4 separate regions of the Homo sapiens genome follow, and regions 1, 2 and 3 are each linked to region 4. Evidence: fine-mapped expression QTL. A gene starts in region 4. Each other region holds a variant in brackets. All regions are shown on one strand. Distances are from middle to middle.

Region 1 (5,149 bases), 27 kb after region 4:
TGATGAGATTGATGCATGAGAACTCCTGTCAGGACAAGGGAGTTTCTGGGTTTGTTGTGGTTTTAATTTGTGATCTACTTGATGCAAGCACATTCTTTAAAAATGAAATAGCACTGAAAGGCAGTTTCTGGTCCCATCCCTCCTGCTTTCTTGTGTGAAAATAAATATAATTTAAAAGCTGTTGGAACCCAAAAAAACCCACTTCAAACCTTAAGAGAAATGTGAATGTGATCTTAGTCACATATGGTTCCAACTTCTGTTTCTCAGATTATAGATTAACTTGTTTTCTTATTTTTTTGTTCTGTACAATGACTAGAGAGAATTAAATTATATCAGGGACAAAAGCCTCCTGCCTTCTTAATTAATGACTCTTGTTATAGATTAACTTCCCCTTTGTTGTCCTACTTTGCCTAAACCAGATGACAGAAAACCCATGACTGTTACACCCATTATATTCAAAATGCTAAATGTACCCTTTCCAAAAAGGATGCATTGCCTATCATCAATCAAATTGCTGGAAGTATGTGCCAACTTCATATGAAAAATGTTGTAATCCTGCTAAAAACATCTCTGTCTCTGCATCTATAAATGAAACCCTAATTTCTCTACTTCAGAACACTGCCTCCATCTCTTCGCAGTTGATGCTCCTGAGTGGGCCATCCTCAAACTTTGTATTTGAATAAACTCTCTTTAAATTAGACTCTGATCCTTTTGATTATTTTAAGTTGACATTTTGGCAACTGCAGATAGGACCTGAAACAAGCCTCGTGCGATCCTCGTTGCTTTGCTGGCATTCGGAGATTTAGTACCAGCATGAGTGGCTTTTACTCGTCTGACCTCATCAGAGCTGGCGGGGGTCTCTGGTAAGACTTCTCTCAGGTTTCATATCTTCCTAGTTCTGGCTGAGATTCAGACTTTATTCAAGCAACCCAATTCCACACTCAACAGAGCTAGAACTGAAGCTCAACTTTTGGCTTTGAGGTAGTCACTTTATTGTTATTTCTCTAGAGATTCTGTTATTTGCAAGTTTGTAGTTTCACTTTCTTTTGAGGTTAAGATTTTGTCTGTTTTGCTTGCTAAAGTTTGCAACTTTTCTCCCATTCAAAATTTGGGGCTGGGTGCAGTGGCTCACACCTGTAATCCCAGCACTTTGGGAGGCTGAGGCGGTTGGATCACTTGAGGCCAGGAGTTGAAGACCAGCTTGGCCAACATGGTGAAACCCAATCTCTACTAAAAATACAAAGCATTAGCTGAACGTGATGGTGCATGTCTGTGGTCCCTGCTACTTGGGAGGCTGAGGTACGAGAATTGCATGAACCCAGTAGGTGGAGATTGCAGGGAGCTGACACACTGTACTCCACTGTCCAGCCTGGGTGACAGAGTGAGATTCTGTCTCAAAAAAAATTGGTTAAATAGAAAGCAGTTTCTTTTTAAAAAGAGAAAGTGAATGCTTGTGGCTTAAGCTAAATGTGCAGTTTTAAACTGACCAGGTTTTGGAGCTGGGTTAAAATTGCCATTTAGATTTTCTTTCTGAGTGACCAAAAATTCATTAAAGGCTTTGTCTGAGGATGTGATTTACTTGACCTGAGAAAGTCCTAAATAACGGCCACTGTTCCTCCCAGCTGAAAGGCACCTTAGGTAACTGAGGCCACACAGGACTGTCAGAGGTCATAGCTTCTGCTGTGTAAGGGTCCTACAGGGAAACCCCAAGGAAGAACATACAGGGAAATCTGATTAACCTGTTGGGCATACATGAAGGGTTGGTATCCCAGGGCCCTAAGCCTCCAGAAATGTCTGGGTTTCACTGAAACACATAAGAGAGTAGAAGTGACTCATGGGTGACACCTCGAGGAGTAATCCCTGTTAAGCAGAATACCAGATCCAAAACATCTTTCCCAGCTGGGCACGGTGGCTCACGCCTGTAATGCCAGCATTTTGGGATGCCGAGGGGGAAGGAGCCCAACATGAGGAGTTTGATACTAGCCTGGCCATCGTGGTGAAACCCTGCCTCTACTAAAAATACAAAAATTA[G/A]CAAGGTATAGTGGTGGGCACCTGTAATCCCAGCTACTTGGGAGGCTGAGGCAGGAGAATCATTTCAACCTGGAAGGCGGAGGTTGCAGTGAGCTGAGATAGCGCAACTGTACTCCAGCCTGGGTGACAGAGAGAGACTTCATCTCAAAATAAACATATAAATAAAATTTAAAAATTAAAAAATAAGACATCTTTCTCTTTGAGTCTTTGGTCACTTAAAAAGAAAATCCAAATTATGGTCCATCTTCCATCTAAAACTGAGTCCTCTTTAAGAAAGAATCCATCTTTAGAAACTCCAGCTGGATTTATGTACAATACTTATGGCACCACCTCCTGTCAATATTTGGAAAAATGGTCTTACTTGACCCAAGAAAATCCTAACATTTGCAATGGACAAAATGTAGTACCTTTGAAATGCCTAAACTAATTTAATTGTGTGCTCAATGAGAAAAAGTCAGCTATAAGATAAAACAAAATAATTGGGAGAGTTATTTTCAATGAGGCTTGGAAGCTTCTAAAGAGGTTATAATAAAGTTATTTCTTTACAAGAGAACAAAAAGTTGTCTTAAAAAATTCTGAATTAAAGACTGCTGAAATTTATCCTCCTCCCTCAGCTCCTCTGTCTCTTTATTCTTTATTATCCTTTATTATCTTCTCCTTCTCTTTATCCTTTAGTACCTTGCCCAGATCTACCTCCTCCTCCTTCTGCTTCTACTGTTCCAGCTCCATTTCTCAAACAGCCAGTGTCTGGTAGGGGAGAACCTACCCTAGTTTCTCAATCATGGTCAAAGGTAAAACTTAAAGACATAGTTCAGGAATTTCCTGATTCTCACCAGGACCAGGACATTGGTTTTCTCAGGAAATTTAAATTAAATATTTGTGCTTATGACCCTGGCTCTACTTTGGGAAAAATAATTATTTTAAATGGAGTATGAACACAAGCTTTTGTTGACACTGGAGCCACATTATCTGTAATAAATCTCACCTTATTACAAGATTCATTCCTTGGAGTAAACAAAAAATTCAAATGGTGGGTGTCACAAATACTCCTGTATTGGTTTATAAATCTCAGCCTGTAGCTTTTCAGCTACGTCACTTACAAGGGACTTATGTTTTCCTTTTGGTTGAATCAGCTCCCATCCATCTTATAGAAAAAGACTTAAAATTATATAATACACTTCTTTCTCCCAAAAAGGGAAAATGTATTTAGAATTAGATGATAAAACTGAGTTACTGGACATAAAAAGTTTTTCAAAATCTAATTTAATTGCAATCTATATTGCCATAGTAGACACTGAATTATTGAGTAATGAAAATTACAAAACCTGCTAAAGGTAGTACCTGATCAATTGTGGTTAAAATCTTCTGCTGATATTGGAATAATCATCTTGGCTTCCCCAATCAAAGTTCAAATAGATCCATCAAAACACCTTCCAAACCTTAAGCAATACCCTCTATTTATTTATTTTTAAAGTATTTTAAATTCATCATATATGGATTGAGTGACTTTGTTAAGTTTAACAGATGTTTATGTAACTTAACTGTGAACTGTTCTTTTTTTGAGCCAGGGTGTCACTCTGTCACCCAGGCTAGAGTGCAGTGATGTGATCTGTGCTCACTGGAACCTCTGCCTCCTGGGCTCAAGCAATCCTGCCACTTCAGCTTCTTCAGTAGCTGGGACCCCAGGTGCACAACACCATGCCTAGTTAAATTTTTGTATTTTTTGTAGAGATGGGGTTTCGCCATGTTGCCCAGGCTGGTCTCAAACTCCTGAGCTCATGCAATCCACCTGCCTTGGCCTCCCAAAGTATTAGGATCACAGGCATGAGCCATCACATCTGGCCAGTACCCTTTAAAAGTAGAAGCTATAATAGGAATAAAACCTGTAGTTCCAGGCTATATAAAAAGAGGTACATGTAATACTCCAATCCTTCCTGTAAGGAAACTAAATGGTAGAGGATAGAAGTTTGTATAGGATCTGAGAACAATTAACAACATAGTCATTCCTCATTATCCAGGAGTGCTAAACCTCCATACATGTTGATGCCATTCTTACCAAAGGCACGTTCTTTACTGTAATAGATTTATGTAGTGTGTTCTTTAGTACTTCTGTGGATAAAGACAGTCAATTTGTTTTCATTTTCACTTGAGAAAACAGACAATACACATGGACATCCTGCTCCAGGGATACATTGAGATCCCAACACACTTTTCACAATATGTAGATGATTTACTCCTCTGCTCAGAGGCTAGGCAAAGCCTCTATAGATGATGGGCTGCACTTTTTACAACAATGAGCTTAAAGGGACACAGACCTCAAAAGAAAGATTTCAGTTTAGAGAAAAACAAATAAGATACTTAGGTCATTTAATATCAAAGGAAGGTCTTTTCATCCATCCAGGCAGTATAAAAAAATATTGGCTTTCCCTACCCCCATAACTTAAAAAACAACCAAAGGGATTTCTGGGTCAGAAGGATACTGTAGGAATTGAGTTCCAAACTTCTCCCTAAAAATTCAACCTTTATATACTCTTTAAAACAAGACAAGTCCGGCACCCTGGAGTGGACTGAGGAAAAATCAGTTAACATTGGAAGAGATCAAAAAGAGCATTATAACGATCAGGTGTGGTGACTCATGCCTGTAATCCCAACACTTTGGGAAACTGAGATGAGTGGATCACCTGAGGCCAAGAGTTCTCAACCTAGAAAACATGGTGAAACCTTGTCTTTCCAAAACATACAAAAATTAGCCAGGGGTGGTGGCACACATCTGTAGTCCCACCTACTTGGGAGGCTGAGGTGGGAGGATTGCTTGAGCCCAGGAGGTTGAGGCTGCAGTGAGCTGTGATTGCACCACTGCATTCTAGCCTGAGCAACAGAGCAAGACCCTGTCTCAAGAAAAAAAAAATCACAAAAAACAGCCTTATAGATACCCCAGCTCTAGGAAATTGAATTATAATATATCATTTTCACTATTTGTTCATGAAAATCAAAAAAACACTTTAGGTCATCTGACACAAAAACATGGAGACCAAAACAGACCCATAGGATACTACAGTCAGCAACTGGACCCTGTGGCTAAAGGACTGCCACCTTGCATAAGGGCAATGATGCCACT
Region 2 (5,149 bases), 61 kb after region 4:
CCAGGGTGACAGAGCAAGTTTCCATCTCAAAAAAAAAAAAAAAATAGCTGGGCGTGGTGGCACATGCCTGTAGTCCCAGCTACTTGGAAGGCTGAGGTGGGAGGATTTCTTGAGCCCAGGAGGTCGAGGCTGCAGTGAGTTATGATCGCACCACTCCACTTCAGCCTGGGCAGCAGAGTAAGACTTTCTCAAAAGAAAAGTTAGAAAAAAAAAGGAAGGAAAGGAGAACATGTGTCAATCTGGAAAGTCAGTTAAGTGGAGCTTGGTTAAGAGAGCTGCTATTGTATTTTTGAGGAAACAATGTATTAGTCAGCTTTGCTGTGATAACAAACAGCACCCCCCACCACCTAATCTCATGGCTTACTATAATATACATTTATTTCTCATTCACATTGCATGTTGGTGTCTGCAAATCAGTGGTGGTGGCTCTGCTTCATGTATCATCTCATTCCAGGGCTAGCCTGAAGGAGCAGCCTCTTTTTAGGACATGTCATTCTTGTGGCAAAGGGAAACAAACAGGATAGAGCTGAAACATCTAATAGCTCTTAAAGGTTTGGCTCATCTGTGGTGGATATTACTCCTGTTCACATCCCATTGGCCAAAGCAGGTCAAAGAACTATACTCTGACTTTGGAAAGCCACTGCAGATCACATGTATAATCCTCTTACAGGAAAGGAAGCAGATGGTTGGAATCAATAATCCAATCACCTGCATATTCCAAGATGTTAACTATTGCTGCAGTAGAGTATATGAATATTGCTGTTATTTTTCCATTCTCATATTTCTCATTTTTACAGTATTTATGACATTTTTATAACTCAACATCTATCCTATTAGGGTAAATTATAATGTCTGGAAGAGCTCACCTTGCCCATTATCTGGCCTTTGTTGGAGGAATTTGCTGACTATGAAAATCATACCATTCACCTTGTACCAATCAATCTGTCCACTTGACTTCCTTTTGAACAGTCTAGATTGTTTCAATTACTAATTACTACATTGTGACTGAAAATTGAGCACTTATAAGCATTAGTGAAAATATATGTATGAAAGAGGCTGACATATATTAGATATTCAAAAAGACTTCTTTAATCTAAATTATGGGCTATTTACATTGATAAATTTTCCAACACAACATAATAAAAACATCTGGTTTCACTTGTAGCATTTTATTTTGTAGTTCACTTTCCATTACAAAAGTGATAAATGTTCATTTTAGAAAATTATAAGTATATAATTTTCAAAATTACAAAAATATTAAAAAGCAAAAGGCAGTAGATAAAAGCACTAGTTATCTCACAACCCTGAGATAACCACTTTTAGCATTTTAGTCAATATATTTTCAGTGATATTTCCAGCATATGTAACTATATTAAAAGGGTTCATATTATGATTGACTAGTTTCAATTCTCATTATGGTATGACTTCTCTATGCCATTAGATATTATCCTATAGTATTAATGGCTGTGCAATATCTTATCCTATGAGAGAAGCCTATTTTATTTTAACTAGTCTTCTGTTAATTACCAGTTTTGTTAAAAATTCCTTTATAAATGAATAATTTCAAACATCTATAATTAATTATTTCCATAGGCAGCTTTCTGGGATCAGAAATTCTGGAGCAAATTATTATGTACAGTTTTAAGGGCCACAGTATTGAATTACAAGAAAAAAACTCAAAATCAGTCTACTTTGTATTATTATATACGATTGCAGATCATCTGTGGTATTTGTCCTCCTGCATTCATCAGTCCCCTAAAGAGATACCAAGGTATTCTTCAATGTTAGAGCAAGTAGAGAACTTTCACATACAGAAATAGTTAACTAGATAATTTGGAACTACCCTCCCACCAAACACAACTGAAATAATCCATATGGAATATAAAAAGCTTCTGGCCAGGTGTGGAGGCTCATGCCTATAACCCCAGCACGTTGGGAGGCTGAGGCAGGTGGATCACTTGAGGCCAGGAGTTCTAGACCAGCTTGACCAACATGGCAAAACCCTGTCTCTACTAAAAATACAAAAAATAGCCAGGCATGGTGGCATATGCCTGTAGCCTCAGCTACTCGGTAGGCTGAGGCATGAGAATTGCTTGAACCCAGGAGGTGGAAACTGCAGTGAGCCGAGATTGTGCCACTGCACTCCAGCCCAGGCAACAGAGTAAGACTCTGTCTCAAAACAAACCAGAAACAAACAAAAAGCTTCTTTCTAAAACAAAGAAAAGCTAACAAGTTGCAAGAAATTGTCAAGGGTCAATATCCCTTGGTAGAAATCCAGAGAGAAGAGCTCAGCATTTGGGCCACTTTTGTCAATCAGAAAAGGTAGTTAAAACACTGAGGAGGCTCGGCCTTTCCAAGGGAAGGGTAACTCTGGAAAACCACCCCATACTTTAGAAGTGGAATTTTGATTGACTAAACCCTGAAAGTAAAAGTAAACAAAAAGTAAACTAGCCTTCCCCTTTACTGTAGCTCAGTTTCAAGAAATCTGGGTGATTCAGAAAAATCTCAAGCACTAAAATGGATTACAATGGTCCTGGATTGCTAATGTCCCCACACATTTGCAAAAGTAAATGAAAATCATTTC[TA/A]AAGGAAGATGATATCATCCTAGTACTAAAATTGCTCCAATAAATTTTTCAAGTACAGTTTCTAACACACAATCAAAGATAACCAGGCATAACAAGAAATAAAATAAGAACAAAAGTAAGCAGGAACAATAGAAAACAGAAAGAGGCTCACAGATACTCCAGATAGTGGAATTATTAGACAGAGATGAGGGGGAAAAAACTATCTTACTATCATCATAGGGTTAAAAACTGAACTCAAAAATTTCAGCAAAATATTGGAAACTATAAAAACAGACATTGAAGATTCAGGAACTAAAAAACATAATAACACAAATTAAAAACTCAATGGATGAGTCTAAAAACAGAGTAAATAAATAAGACAAGTTAGAAGAATTCATCCAGAATGGAGCACAGAGAGATAAATGGATGACAAATGGAAGAGAAGATCAGAGACATAGAGGGCACAGTAAGAAAGACCAATATACATTTAATTGGAATTCCAGAAGAAAGAAGAAATAGGGCAAAAGCAATACTTGAATAATGAATGAGACTTCCAGAACTGATGATTCAAGGACATGATGCAGAAATGGTGATGAAAGATATCAGTCCACAGATTCAAGAAGCCCCCAAAATCACACACAGTACTTAATTTATTTATTTACTTAGAGGCAGAGTCTCACTCTGTCACCCAAGCTGGAGTGCAGTGGTGTGATCATAGCTCACTACAGCCTTGAACCCCCAGGCTCAAGTGATTCTGTCACCTCAGCTTCCTGAGTAGTTGGGGATACAGACATGAGCCACCATGCTCTGCTAATTTTCTTTCTTTTTTTTTTTTTTTTGTAGAGACAGGGTCTCGCTAAGTTGCCTAGGCTGGTCTTGAACTCCTGGCCTCAAGCAATCCTTCCATTCAGTCTCCCAAAGTGTTGGGATTGCAGGGGTGAGCCACTACATCCAGCCATACACAGCATTAACATAAATCACACCCAGATGCTTCATTGTAAAACTGCAGAAAACCAAAAATAAAGAGAAAATTTTAAAAACAAGCAGAACAGAAAAAAGTAGATTATCTTCAGAGGAACAGACAGACTGACAACTGATTTCTTATTAGCAACTACAAAATCCAGAAGACAGTGAAATTATGTTTAATGTGATAAAAGAAAATAATTAACAACTTAGAATTTTATATTTAGTAAAATATCCTTCAAAAATGAAATTTTTTGGCTGGGCACACTGGCTCACACCTGTAATCCCAGAACTTTGAGAGGCTGAGGTGGGCAGATCACTTTAGGTCAGGAGTGTGAGACCAGCCTGGTCAACATGGTGAAACCCCATCTCTACTAAAAATACAAAAATTATCTGGGTGTGGTGGTGGGCACCTCTAATCCCAGCTACTCAGGAGGCTGAGGCAGGAGAATTGCTTGAACCCAAGAGGCAGAGGTTGCAGTGAGCCAAGATTGTGCCACTGCACTCCAGCCTGGGTAACAGAGGGTGATTGTCTCAAAAAAAATATTATTTTTATTTTTGAGATAGGGTTTCACTCTCCCACCCAAACTCATGCCACTCATTGCAGTGGCATGATCACGGCTCACCACAGTCTTAACTTCCTGGGCTCAGGTGATCCTCCTACCTCAGCCTCCTGAGTAGCTGGAACTACAGTCACCTGCCATCATGCCCGGCTAATTTTTGTATTTTTTGTAGAAACAGGGTTTCACCATGTTTCCCAGGCTGTTCGCAAACTCCTGGGCTCAAGCGATCCACCTGCCTCAGCCTCCCAAAATGCTAGGATTACAGGCATGAACCACCATGCCCAGCCAAGAATGAAGTTTAAATAAACACATTTTTAGGGAAACAAAAACAAAATAATTTGCTTTCAGAAGACCACACTGAAGGAAAAACTAAACAGGTCTCATCTCTTCAGATAGAGGGAAATGATTCTAGAAGAAAGATTGGAGATTCAGGAAGAAAAGAAAACCAATGAAATGGTAGTTATTTGGATAAGTCTAATGAATATTGGCTGTGTAAGACAACAATTATAATATCTTGTAGGGTTTTGCCGGGCGCGGTGGCTCATGCCTGTAATCCCAGCACTTTGGGAGGCTGAGGCGGGTGGATCACAAGGTCAGGAGATCGAGATCATCTTGGCTAACACGGTGAAACCCCGTCTCTACTAAAAATACAAAAAATTAGCCAGGCGTGGTGGCGAGTACCTGTAGTCCCAGCTACTCGGGAGGCTGAGGCAGGAGAATGGTGTGAACCCGGGAGGCGGAGCTTGCAGTGAGCCGAGATCAAGCCACTGCACTCCATTCAGCCTGGGCGACAGAGTGAGACTGCGTCTCAAAAAAAAAAAAAAAAAAATCTTGTAGGGTTTTAAAGAAATGTAGAATTAAAATCTATCACATAGCACAAAAATTGTATATGTGGTAAATGGGGTTAAAATAGTCTAAGGTCCTTGCATTCCTGGGAAGAGGTAAAATTCTAATTAATATTAGTATTTAATAAGTCAGAGATACATGCCATAATATCTAAGATAAACATGAATGTCTTAATTTAAAATTAATTAACTCATGCAAAAAGAACACAAGAAA
Region 3 (5,149 bases), 73 kb after region 4:
AGTAAAGAAGCCAGCTAAATCCTACCAAAACCAGATGGCCATGAGAGCGACCTCTGGTCGTCCTCACTGCTACGCTCCCACCAGTGCCATGACAGTTACAGATGCCATGGCAACGTCAGGAAGTTACCCTATATGGTCTAAAAACAAAAGGCATAAATAATCCACCCCTTGTTTAGCATATCGTCAAGAAATAACCATAAAATGAGCAACCAGCAGCCCTTGGGGTTGCTCTGCCTATGAAGTTGCCATTCTTTTATTCCTTTACTTTCCTAATGAACTTGCTTTCACTGTATTCTATGGACCCGCCCTGAATTCTTTCTTGCACAAGATCCAAGAACCCTCTCTTGGGGTGTAGATCGAGACCCCTTCCCTGTAACACTTGCAGATGGGCTTGGCCAGCGGGAAGGACCACAGGAGATGGGTGGAAGGGAATAAGTGAGGGCAGGTGAGTATTTCCAGCTTTCCTCCTGCTGGGTTGTGCCCTCTGCCATAAGTTGGTTGTGTCCCTTCACCAAATGCCATACCCCTTGTCTAGTGTCCCTCTCCATATACTACACTCTCCTCTTCCATAATCTCTTCCATCTCCTGCCCCTCCTGGTCAAGCTGTTCCCAACCTTGAGGCACTGCAGTAGCCCTTGCTGGAGTCCTTAGGCCCTGCGCACAGGTTTCTAAACAGTCTCTTATCAAAGCTTCCTCCAATTACTCAGTTTGAGTGCATCATCTTTTTCCTGCCAGGACCCTGACTAAAGCAAAGCCTAAAAGTTTGTGGATTTACATCACCCAGAAATCTCATCATTGGGGATGTCTTGATGATGCCAGCATTTCTGAATTTCTGTAAGTGAGACAGACAACAGCTGGTGATGTGGTCACACTGCAGTGAGAACATTTGGGCAGGGCAATTAATAGGCCCCAAGACATCTTTCTTTTTGGAAAAATACCCACCCACCCCCTACCACCTCCTCATACTGCTATAGCATTGCTGTAGCAACAAAATGGTAATTCAAAGAGGTATATTTTTATTTTAAAAGGCTCTCTGTCTGGGAAATTTCTACTCTACGAGCCGATGCTTGTGCTGTGAGGCTGAATCTTCCTTAAGAACAAGACAAAACGGCCGGGCACAGTGGCTCACGCCTATAATCCCAGCACTTTGGGAGGCCGAGGCAGGAATCATCTGAGGTCAGGAGTTCAGGAACAGCCTGGCCAACATGGTGAAACCCTGTCTCTACAAAAATACAAAAAATATTAGCTGGGCATGATGGTGCCTGTCTGTAATCCCAGCTACTTAGGAGGCTGAGGCAGGAGAGTCTCTTGAGCCCGGGAGGTGGAGGTTGCTGTGAGCAGAGATCTTGCCATCATTGCACTCCAGCTTGGGCGACAGAGCGAGACTCCATCTCAAAACAAACAAACAAACAAACAAACAAACAAACAAAAGACAAAACAAAAGAGGAACCAACAGTGCCTTGGAGGGAGTCCAATTAAGGAGCATGACCGAAAGGAGGGAGAACAGCCACAGAGAGCTAAGCCAGGCGGGAGCGCATCTGTTCAGGTCCGGGTGCACACAGCAGGTAACAGGGTATCGGTGAAGGTGCCAGGGGTGTCAGTTCCTAGTCACCTCCTCTTGCAGGTGCCGAGGCAGAGTCTGCGCGGTGGGAGAAGGCAGAGCCGGGCTGGAGTGCTTACTTTCCTTCTGTCCTCAGCAGCTGCACGTGGAAGGCGAGCAGGGCTCAAGGTGGATTGGGTGCATGGTGGTGTCCCAGCCGGGTCAGGAGGAACACTCAGCCAGGCTTGCTCCCCCAAATTCACATGGGCTATGCCACGGGAGGCCTCAGACCGCACCTTCGTCTTCCAGCCTCAAGGCGAGGGCCTTGCAGGTGTTGGCAGAGAAGGTGAACATCTCAAAAAAAAAAAAAAAAAATGCAAATATGAGCTGTCAGCTACAAGGGGTTGGGGGTTGTGTACCATCCTGATAAAGAGAGTCTAGATACCAAGACACCAAAAGCTTCACTATAATACCAGAGGTAGTAAATGAAAGTAGCATTTTAAGTCTGTGGAAAGGATGGATATTCCATAAATATTATTGAGACCATTGACTATCCTTTTGAAAAAAGAAAGTTTGGTCTACACCTCACACCTTGAATGAAAACAGGTTCCAAAATGGGTCCAAGATTTACCCACTGTAACAAACAAAAAAAATGACAAATGAACTGTATTACTGTATTAGTTATCTATCTCC[G/A]CATAACAAATTAACCCCAGATTTAGCAGCTTTAAACAACAAACATTTATTATCTATGGTTATGGGGGTCAGGAATCCAGGAGCAGCATAACTGGGTTCTGCCTCAGTATCTCTCATCAGGTTGCAGACAAGATATTGGCTCAGGCTGCAGTTTTGTTGTTGTTGTTGTTGTTGTTTTAAGAGACGGGGTCTCACTCTGTTGCCCAGGCTGGAGTGCAGTGGCTATTAACAAGCACAATCATAATGTCATAACTACAGCCTCAAACTCCTGGGCTCAAGTTATCCTCCGGCCTCAGCCTCCTGAGTAACTGGGACTACAGGCATGTGCCACCAACGGGCTGCAGTCATTTGAAGGCTCAACTGGAGGAGGCTCCCATTTCAAGGTCACTCATGTTGTTGTTGGCCAACCTTAATTCCCCGTTGGCTGTTGGACTGAGACCTCATTTCTCACCACTGGTTCATGCCAAGTCCAACCCAGATGTGCCCAGTTAAGCAGCTCTCCTGCAAGCAATGAGTCAGGAATTCAAGCTCTCTATCCAGTAACTCCACTGTCCCCAGGAATCTTGGACTCTTCTCCTGCATCCAGCCAGCTGGTAGGCAAGGGGAGAACATGGATGGTTGCATGAAAAGTTTGAAGAGCCACCCCTGAAAAAGGCACACATCACTTCTCCCCGCATTCCATTGGCCAGAATTCGACATGATGCTAGGGGGCTGGGAAACATAGCTCTCCTGTGTGCCCAGGAGAAAAATAAATCGGTTTGGTGAGCACATGGTATTGTGTCTGCCATGGGCCTGTAGGTAAGGATATCTGCTCTTCACCAGCCAGGGCTTGGCTGTCCAATGGAAGAACTCCTTCTTTTCAGCTCTTCAAATCACAAGTCAAGTGACTCAATGACTGAGTCAATAGGGAGAATTAGTGCACCCCAGCACCTGAACTTTATGAGGTCTCCAACTTGGTTTGGTTTCACTGGCCCCCTCATTCCTTCCTTTCCCAGGGAGGCCCTGACTTGTATCAACAACTGCTGAATTACATTACATGTACAGTGTCAGTGTGTCAATGTTACTAGAAACTTCTAAAATGCTACCCAAGGAGCTTTACTGAATATCCTTCTATTTATTTCCCCAGGTGTACCCTTGCATTTCTCCACCCTGCCCTGTCCCTTGGGAGGCAGATCCAAACACATTGTGTGTCAGTGCCCTGACCCAGGTGCGTTCTGTCAGCAGGAGGCACCAGCGGGTATCTGGAAAGTGGAGTGGGAGTGGGGCTGTCAGGTGCTTATTTCCCTGGCTCCTTCTTGTCAGGTCACCATGGATTGTGGTGTCTTTAACTTTTTTCAAAATGTTGAGATACAATTTAAGCTGGGCAAATTTAGCACTGTCTGTAGTCCCGGCTACTCGGGAAGCTAAGGCAGGAGAGTCGCTTGAGGCCAGGAGTTCAGGACCACCCTGGGTAACATAGCAAGACTGTGTCTCAAAAAACAAAACAAAACAAAACCAAAACAGGCAATGACAAAAAATGAGACAAAATTCACAAGTTGGCTGGGTGCAGTGGCTCATGCCAGTAATCCCAGTACTTTGGGAGGCTGAGGTGGGCAGATCACTTGAGGTCAGGAGGTCAGTGGCCTACACAGTGAAATCCCATCTCTACTAAAAATACAAAAATTAGCTGGGCCTGGTGGCACGTGCTTGTAATCCTAGCTACTTGGGAGGCTAAGGCAGGAGGATAGCTTGAACCCGGGAGGCAGAGGCTGCAGAGAGCCAAGATTGCGCCATTGCAATCCAGCCTGGGCAACAGAGTGAGACTCAATCACAAAAAAAAAAAAAATTCGCAAGTCATAAAATTTACCATTTTAACCATTTTAAAGTGTACAATTTAGAGATTTTTAGTATATTCACAATCTTGTACATTACAGGGGTGTCCAATCTTTTAGCTTCCCTGGGCCACATGGGAAGAATAATTGTCTTGGGCCACACATAAAATACACTAACACTAACGATAGTTGATGAGCTAAAAAGAATCACAAAAAATCTCCTAATGTTTTAAGAAAGTTTACACATTTGTGCCAGACCGCATTCAAAGATGTCCTGGGCCACATGTGGCCTGCGGGCCTCTGGTTGGACAAACTTGTCATAGAACCATCACTGCTATCTAATTCCAGGACGTTTATGTCATCCTCCAATAAACTTTGTATATTTCAACCTCCCTCTGCCCCTTTTCCCTGGCAACCACAACCTCCACGGACTGTTGCATCATGTCCTCTCCTAATGCCATGACTCTGCTGAGTTGTCCTGCCTAGGAAGCTTGCTTTTCCTTTCCCTTGCCTTCCTAGGAAGCTTGCTTTTCCCTTCCCTTCCCTTCCCTTCCCTTCCCTTCCCTTCCCTTCCCTTCCCTTCCCTTCCTTCCCTTCCCTTCCCTTCCCTTCCCTTCCCTTCCCTTCCCTTCCCTTCCCTTCCCTCCCCTCCCCTCCCCTCCCCTCCCCTCCCCTCCCCTCTCCTCCCCTCCCCTCCCCCTCCCTCCCCCTCCCTCCCCCTCCCTCTCCTTCCTTCCCTCCCTCTTTCGTTTTCTTTCTTCTTTCTTTTCCTTTTTCTTTTCTTCTTTCCTTCTTCTCCTTCCTCCCTTCCTTCCTTCTCCCCCTCCCTCTTTTCTTTTCTTTCTTCCTCCTTTTCTTTCTTCTTTCTTTTTCTCTTTCTTTCTTTCCTTTCTTTTTCTCTTTCTTTCTTTCCTTTCTTTTTCTTTATTTCTTTCTTTTTCTTCTTTCTTTCTTTCTTTTCCTTTCTCTCTTTCCCCTCCATCCCTTTCCTTCTTTCATCCTTTTCCTTCATTCCTTCCTTTTCTTTCTTTCTTCCCTTTCTTTCTTTCCTCTCTTTTCTTTTCTTCTTTTTTTGAGACAGAATCTCACTCTGTCACCCAGGCTG
Region 4 (5,149 bases):
TGACACAGCTGAGAGCAGCAGAGCCTAACAAAGCATACTCCTCTTCCCCAAGGCGGAGGCATGAGAGGCATGAAGAGGTGAGACCCCAGACCACAGCCCCAGCCTCTGGCCAGCTGCCAGGGCAGAGGCCTTTGGAGCTGCTCCCTCTCTGGGCTGCTCCCCCTTCTCCACTTCCTGGAGAACTGGCTGGGGTGGGGTGAAAGGGCAGCTCATGTTGCAGGCCCAGCCACACCTGTCCAGGATAAATAAAGGCATTTCCCCGCCACCCTCCTTTCCCAGTCTCCCTCTTGAACTCCCTTCTCTGTGGGTCTGCAAGCAGAGACCCTATGAAGGGATGCCTTGAGGGGCTGCTGCTGCCCCAAAGTTGCTGCCATGAGCCCCCGGGAGCCACCACCCAGCCTGCAGGTGGCCTGTGTCCTTCCAGGAGGAGCTGCAGCACACACCTGCAGCTGAGAGGGGACAGACCCTCCCCAGTGCCTCTCTATTAGTCCCAGTTAGAGGGGTGAGCAAGCCAGCATGGGAGTTAGGGGTGACAGGATACAGGAGATCCACCCATGGACATCCCTGTCCTGTGAGCAGACTCGAGCCTCAGTTTGCCAGGCTCTGAAGCGAGGTAACGATCCCAGCCTCGCCTGCCTGCCCACCCCACAGGGTCACACACTCTTGCCTCTGGTGCCCTATGGCACAGGCTCAGGTCCTGGCTGGGGTGGGAGTGGGGTTCCTCCAGAGAGCTCTGGCCATGCCTCCCCCGTAGGGGGATGTCCCTGGTGCAGAAGGGCCCTGCGAGCCCCGGCAGTAAATCCTACAGCCCTGGTGGGATGGCAGGGCTGTGTCCACAAGGCCTGCCCTGCCAGCGGCACTGAACCAGGACACAAGCCCAGGCTATCAGCAGCCTACCACCAAAATTTCTCAAGAGGCTCCGAGCCCTGGGGAAGGCTCCAGTACCCAGTCCAGCCTGCTCCGCGGCTTAGGTGATTTGGGGTATGCCCCTAAAGGAAGCCGAGAGGCCATATCATGCCCATCCCCCGGTGCCCTGCCCGAGCTTCGGGTTCTATTTTTAGAAGTCCCCACAGTCATTGGATCCAGCACATCCCTGCATACCCCCTCCCCAGAGTAAGGACATTCCTCCTGCTATCTAGCTTAAGGCTTCTGGGCTGCCATTTAAGCCCCTGGCTGGCCGGGGCCAGGTGGCACATAGACCCTGGGTGAGGTCATTGGCTATCCTGAGTGCCACTGAGCCCAGTGGCCAATTTGCACCCATAGGGATAGGGCAGGGAGCACCAGCAGGAGGCCTCGAGATGGTGGAGCTGGGGGAGATGTGGGCTCAGTCCCAGGCAGGGGAGGCCACAGGGCCCATGAGAGAGCACACAGAGGCTCCACCTTATACAGGAAGGAGTCCTGCAAGCATGGGGGTGGGGAGCTGTGGGAAAGGGCAGTGGGAAATCCACTGGGGCTCACATGCTCACAGGTCACCACCTCATGCAAAGTGTGCAAGGCTGTGGGTGCCCAGGACCCTGTGGTCTCCAGGGCAGTAGATCTGGAGGGGTGGAATCTCCAGGTTAGAACAAGCCACATCTGCAACTGAAGGATGGAGGTCAGGGCCTGTTCCCTGCACCAGAGCCAGGCCAGCACCCCTCCTGTAAGCATGTGGCCTCTATGGCTATTATAAGGCTCTCACGGCATCCCTGGGTGGGGCTTCTACTTCTGGGGTCCCCTCAAGTACCCGTGGAACAAAAAAAAGATTACTCCTCCACTGGGGGCATTGGCTCCTGACCCGCTGCCCAGGTTCCCTGGCCCCTCTGCCAAGCCCCTTCAGGCCTTGCCCACTTCAGTGCTTCCCCTCCAACCCCTTCCTCCAGCCCCCAGGCCCAAGGCAAGTCCTTAAGGCCCCAGAGAAGAAACTGTCCCCTTGTTCCCCTGGTGGGCAGTAGCCCAGATACCCCTGCCTACCTACCACCCTCCAGTGACAGACTGGGGGCCTCCCCCTCTGGCCTTGTGCCCGGAACAGCACGGTCAGGGGCTCAGCCACCAGGCAGGGTTGTCCTTGCCCTGTATGCCTCACAGTTCGCCCTGAGCCTTGGGGCCTTCAGCCCTGGGTCTACCAGTGCCTTGCTGGGGAGTCTCTTTGTTTGACAGAAACTGACGGAGTGCCTACTACGGTCTGGGGGCTGTTCCCCCATCAGTCCCTGCTCCTGGAGTGCTTCCTCAGGAGCATGGCTAACTTTCTGCCTCTCTGGTGTTGCTGTCTCCAGCCAGGCGGTAGAGTTACTCAGACAACCCCTGATGTTCTGTGTCATCTGCATCAGGCCATGCTGCTCCCCATCACAGACACTGCAGGATAGGGGGCCATCTCACCAGGCCCCAGCACTTGTGGGGAACAAGACCTGAGACAGACAAAGCAGCCATGGTGAATGGGGAGAAGCGCCCAGCCCCATGAGCCAGGGTCTTGGTGTCTCAAGTTTGGGATGGAGCAGGTGCCCAGTACTCAGTCCAGCCCAGCCCCACACTCTGACAGCTGGGCAGCCAAGGTCAACCGTCTGTCTGTCCATCTATCCAACTGCCCATCACCTGCCCTCTCCATGCTGGGAATACTCCCTTCCCAAAGCAGCTGCCCATATCTAGGGAAATGCTCAAGGCTTGGGGGCACCCTGAGCCCACTCTAACAGTAAAGGGATCAGGAAGGTGCTGTACTCTCTGTCCAGCTACCTGCCTGCCTGCCTGCCTGCCTGCCTGAAAACTCAGCATTTTCTTCTCTGCTAAAAACACCTACCACCTGCTCATGATGTCTCACATGCATAACAGGCCGGCGCGCTCCAGTGAGCAAACAGCTGTGGCTGAGACCAGAGGACCAGGCCAGTCCCAGGGGATGGGGCATGCTCTGCTTTCTGAGAGGCTCAGAAAGGACAGACAGACAGACGGACACACATGCCCTCCTCCAAGCGTGCCTGCCCCATCGGGTGCCAGGCTGTGGCAGGGTGCACTCACCCGGGAGATAGTGAGGGGCATGTTGAAGTCCTTGCCCCCCTGCAGACGGAAGCCCCAGGGCCCGGGCCCAGTCAGGGTCACACTGTAAGACATGCTGGTGCTGTCAGCGGCCGCCTCTGCAGACAAAGGGTAGAGAGGGTTGAGTGAGAGGGCACTCAGGCACTCCGCCTGCCCGGTCCACACCTCTGCCCCTGCCCCTGACCCCCAGCCTTGCCTGTTCTGTCCCTTGCTGCCCAGCCGGGCTGCGTGGAGCTCTTGAGAGGCTCCTAAGAATAGCTGGGAGCGAATGCCATCGACACTGATATCTGCCTTCGGCTGCGCCCATAAATGGACTGTAACCCTACACTGTGCCTGCCAGCCTGCCGCCTCCCAGCCGGTCCACCATGACTCACACGGCTAATATAGCCCCTGGGGAGGGGTGTCCGGCACCCAGCACCCCCCAGGGGGGAGGAAGGGGAACTGGCCTGGTTGGTGAGAATGCTCTGGTCTCCTTGCTCCTGTGTCCTCTGGAGAGCGTAGACACTCGCTCTTCCTGCCCAGTGGTACCCATCCTCTTGCTCAGAAGACCAGGGGCTGAGCTCCCTTGGGTAGGGGCTTTGCTGCCGTGTGGTCCCTGGCCAGGATTCTGGGGTTGTGCTTTATCCAGTATGGGGCCCTGGAGGTGCCTTGGCTTGAGCTGAGCCTCCAGCTGGTCTGTGACTGGCCCAGGGTTGTCCAGCCATAAAAACGATCATCATAACAGCAGCTCTGGGCATAGCCAACCTCAGTATGGGCCCTTCACTCCCTGGGATCCTGAGAAGCTGCCACCTGGGCCCGCAGGAGACAAAGCTCAGGGAGGTTAAATGACTTCTCCAAGGTCACACAAGGAGTGGACCCAGGTCACACTGGAGCCTGGGCTGATTCCTACAGAATGCATGCCAGATAATGGGCTCCCAGTAGCCACAGAAGCCTCCCAAAGCCCTGGTCCTGGGCAGCTGGCCCTCTGCCTGCACCCCTTGGCATAGGGTCTGAAAGCAGGTCTGAGGCAGGCCCATCCCCTCCAGACCCTCTGGGGGCCCAGCCAGTTATTCCTGGCTCTCCTGTCTTTGTGCTCTGGAAAACTTGACGGCAGCATGGAAAGCTCCAGCTGCCAGTGCCACACGCCAGGCCCCGTGCCCTTTGCGCAGGAATGGCAGGGGGCAGGGAGAAGGGAGGAGACGCCATTTGCTCAGCTGCTAGACACAGGGCCAGGAGGGGCAGGGAGGGGGAAGCACGTGTGGCATGTTCAGCCTGTACCCCAGAGACAGTGTGTTCTGGATGGGGGCCTCAGCACCTTGGGACTTCTGCCAGTGCGGTCTTTGGGCCAACCCCTTCCCCAAGAAAGACCTCAGGCCCCTATGTGGTCTGGAGATAGATCAAGGCCCACCCTGGCTCCTTGGTTGGAGAAACTGAGGCTCAGGGGAGGCAACTGGGTTGGCTGCTTGCTGGCCCTCTTGGAGGGGTCTGGCTTGGACCCTGAGGAGTCAGTAGAGGCCTGGGTGTGAGTCATTTCTCAGCTTCTAGCCTCACTCCTGGGGCCTGGCACATGCAAGGTACAAGGTAGGATCACCCATATTACGGGGTTGTTTTGTCACTTGCCCAAAGTCACAAAACTATCAAGTGGAAGAAGTCAGGAAAAGACCTGTGTCCTTTTCCCTGCTTAATCACTTCCTTCACCCTATATCATGCAGCCCAGCCCAGGAGGCCAGCAGTCCATGGCCAGCATCCCTTCCCCATACCATTCCCTATCCCTCTCTGCAAAGCCCCATGTCATTCATCCCTAACTCCAGCCTTATGCCCTTTCCTAGGGGTGTTTGTCCATCCTGCCAGGCTGGGGAGGACTCAGCAGCAGGGCATAACCAGTGTGGGAGAAGGAAGGCACCCACCCTCAGGGCCAGGGAGCTGGGGGAGGCTGTACCTGGAGCTGCACGCTGTCTCTCTGGCCTCTGGCTCCTGCCTGATGAAGCTCGCCTCTGGGGAAAGGGAGGGGTGGCAGGAGAGTGCTCTTAAAGGCGAAGGCCGGCCTCCCTCCATCCGCCTCCCTCGGGAGATGTGAAGCCAGTCAGAGAGCAGCTGGTACCCATGGTCTGGGCGGAGTTCAATGGCTCACTGGGGAGTGAGTGGGGATGGAGGCCAGCCTGGCCTT

Alleles and levels. Alleles are on the strand shown, and positions count from the first base shown. SD is a standard deviation of normalised expression in the study named. Not every link is listed here.
As copies of TA replace A in region 2, the expression in esophagus muscle of the gene that starts at base 3,259 in region 4 goes up (small effect, 0.17 SD a copy in GTEx).

Evidence for each region.
Region 1: its variant is fine-mapped to the expression of LDB3 in sun-exposed skin (GTEx, PIP above 0.99).
Region 2: its variant is fine-mapped to the expression of LDB3 in esophagus muscle (GTEx, PIP 0.98).
Region 3: its variant is fine-mapped to the expression of LDB3 in lung (TOPMed, PIP above 0.99).

The regions. Positions count from the first base shown.
Region 1 is chr10:86,639,428-86,644,576 of GRCh38, reverse strand. No RefSeq gene overlaps it. Among named protein-coding and RNA genes, the nearest start is that of OPN4, 13 kb to the left of the region's middle. RefSeq lists an enhancer at 1,124-1,363. The variant G/A (reference allele first, on the strand shown) is at 2,032.
Region 2 is chr10:86,605,879-86,611,027 of GRCh38, reverse strand. No RefSeq gene overlaps it. Among named protein-coding and RNA genes, the nearest start is that of OPN4, 46 kb to the left of the region's middle. The variant TA/A (reference allele first, on the strand shown) is at 2,585.
Region 3 is chr10:86,594,002-86,599,150 of GRCh38, reverse strand. No RefSeq gene overlaps it. Among named protein-coding and RNA genes, the nearest start is that of OPN4, 58 kb to the left of the region's middle. RefSeq lists an enhancer at 1,181-1,681. The variant G/A (reference allele first, on the strand shown) is at 2,234.
Region 4 is chr10:86,666,621-86,671,769 of GRCh38, reverse strand. LDB3 (LIM domain binding 3) reads right to left here and starts at 3,259. Exons shown (of 14, transcript NM_007078.3): 1 at 3,200-3,259; 2 at 2,986-3,101. The coding sequence starts at 3,078. RefSeq lists an enhancer at 3,079-3,128.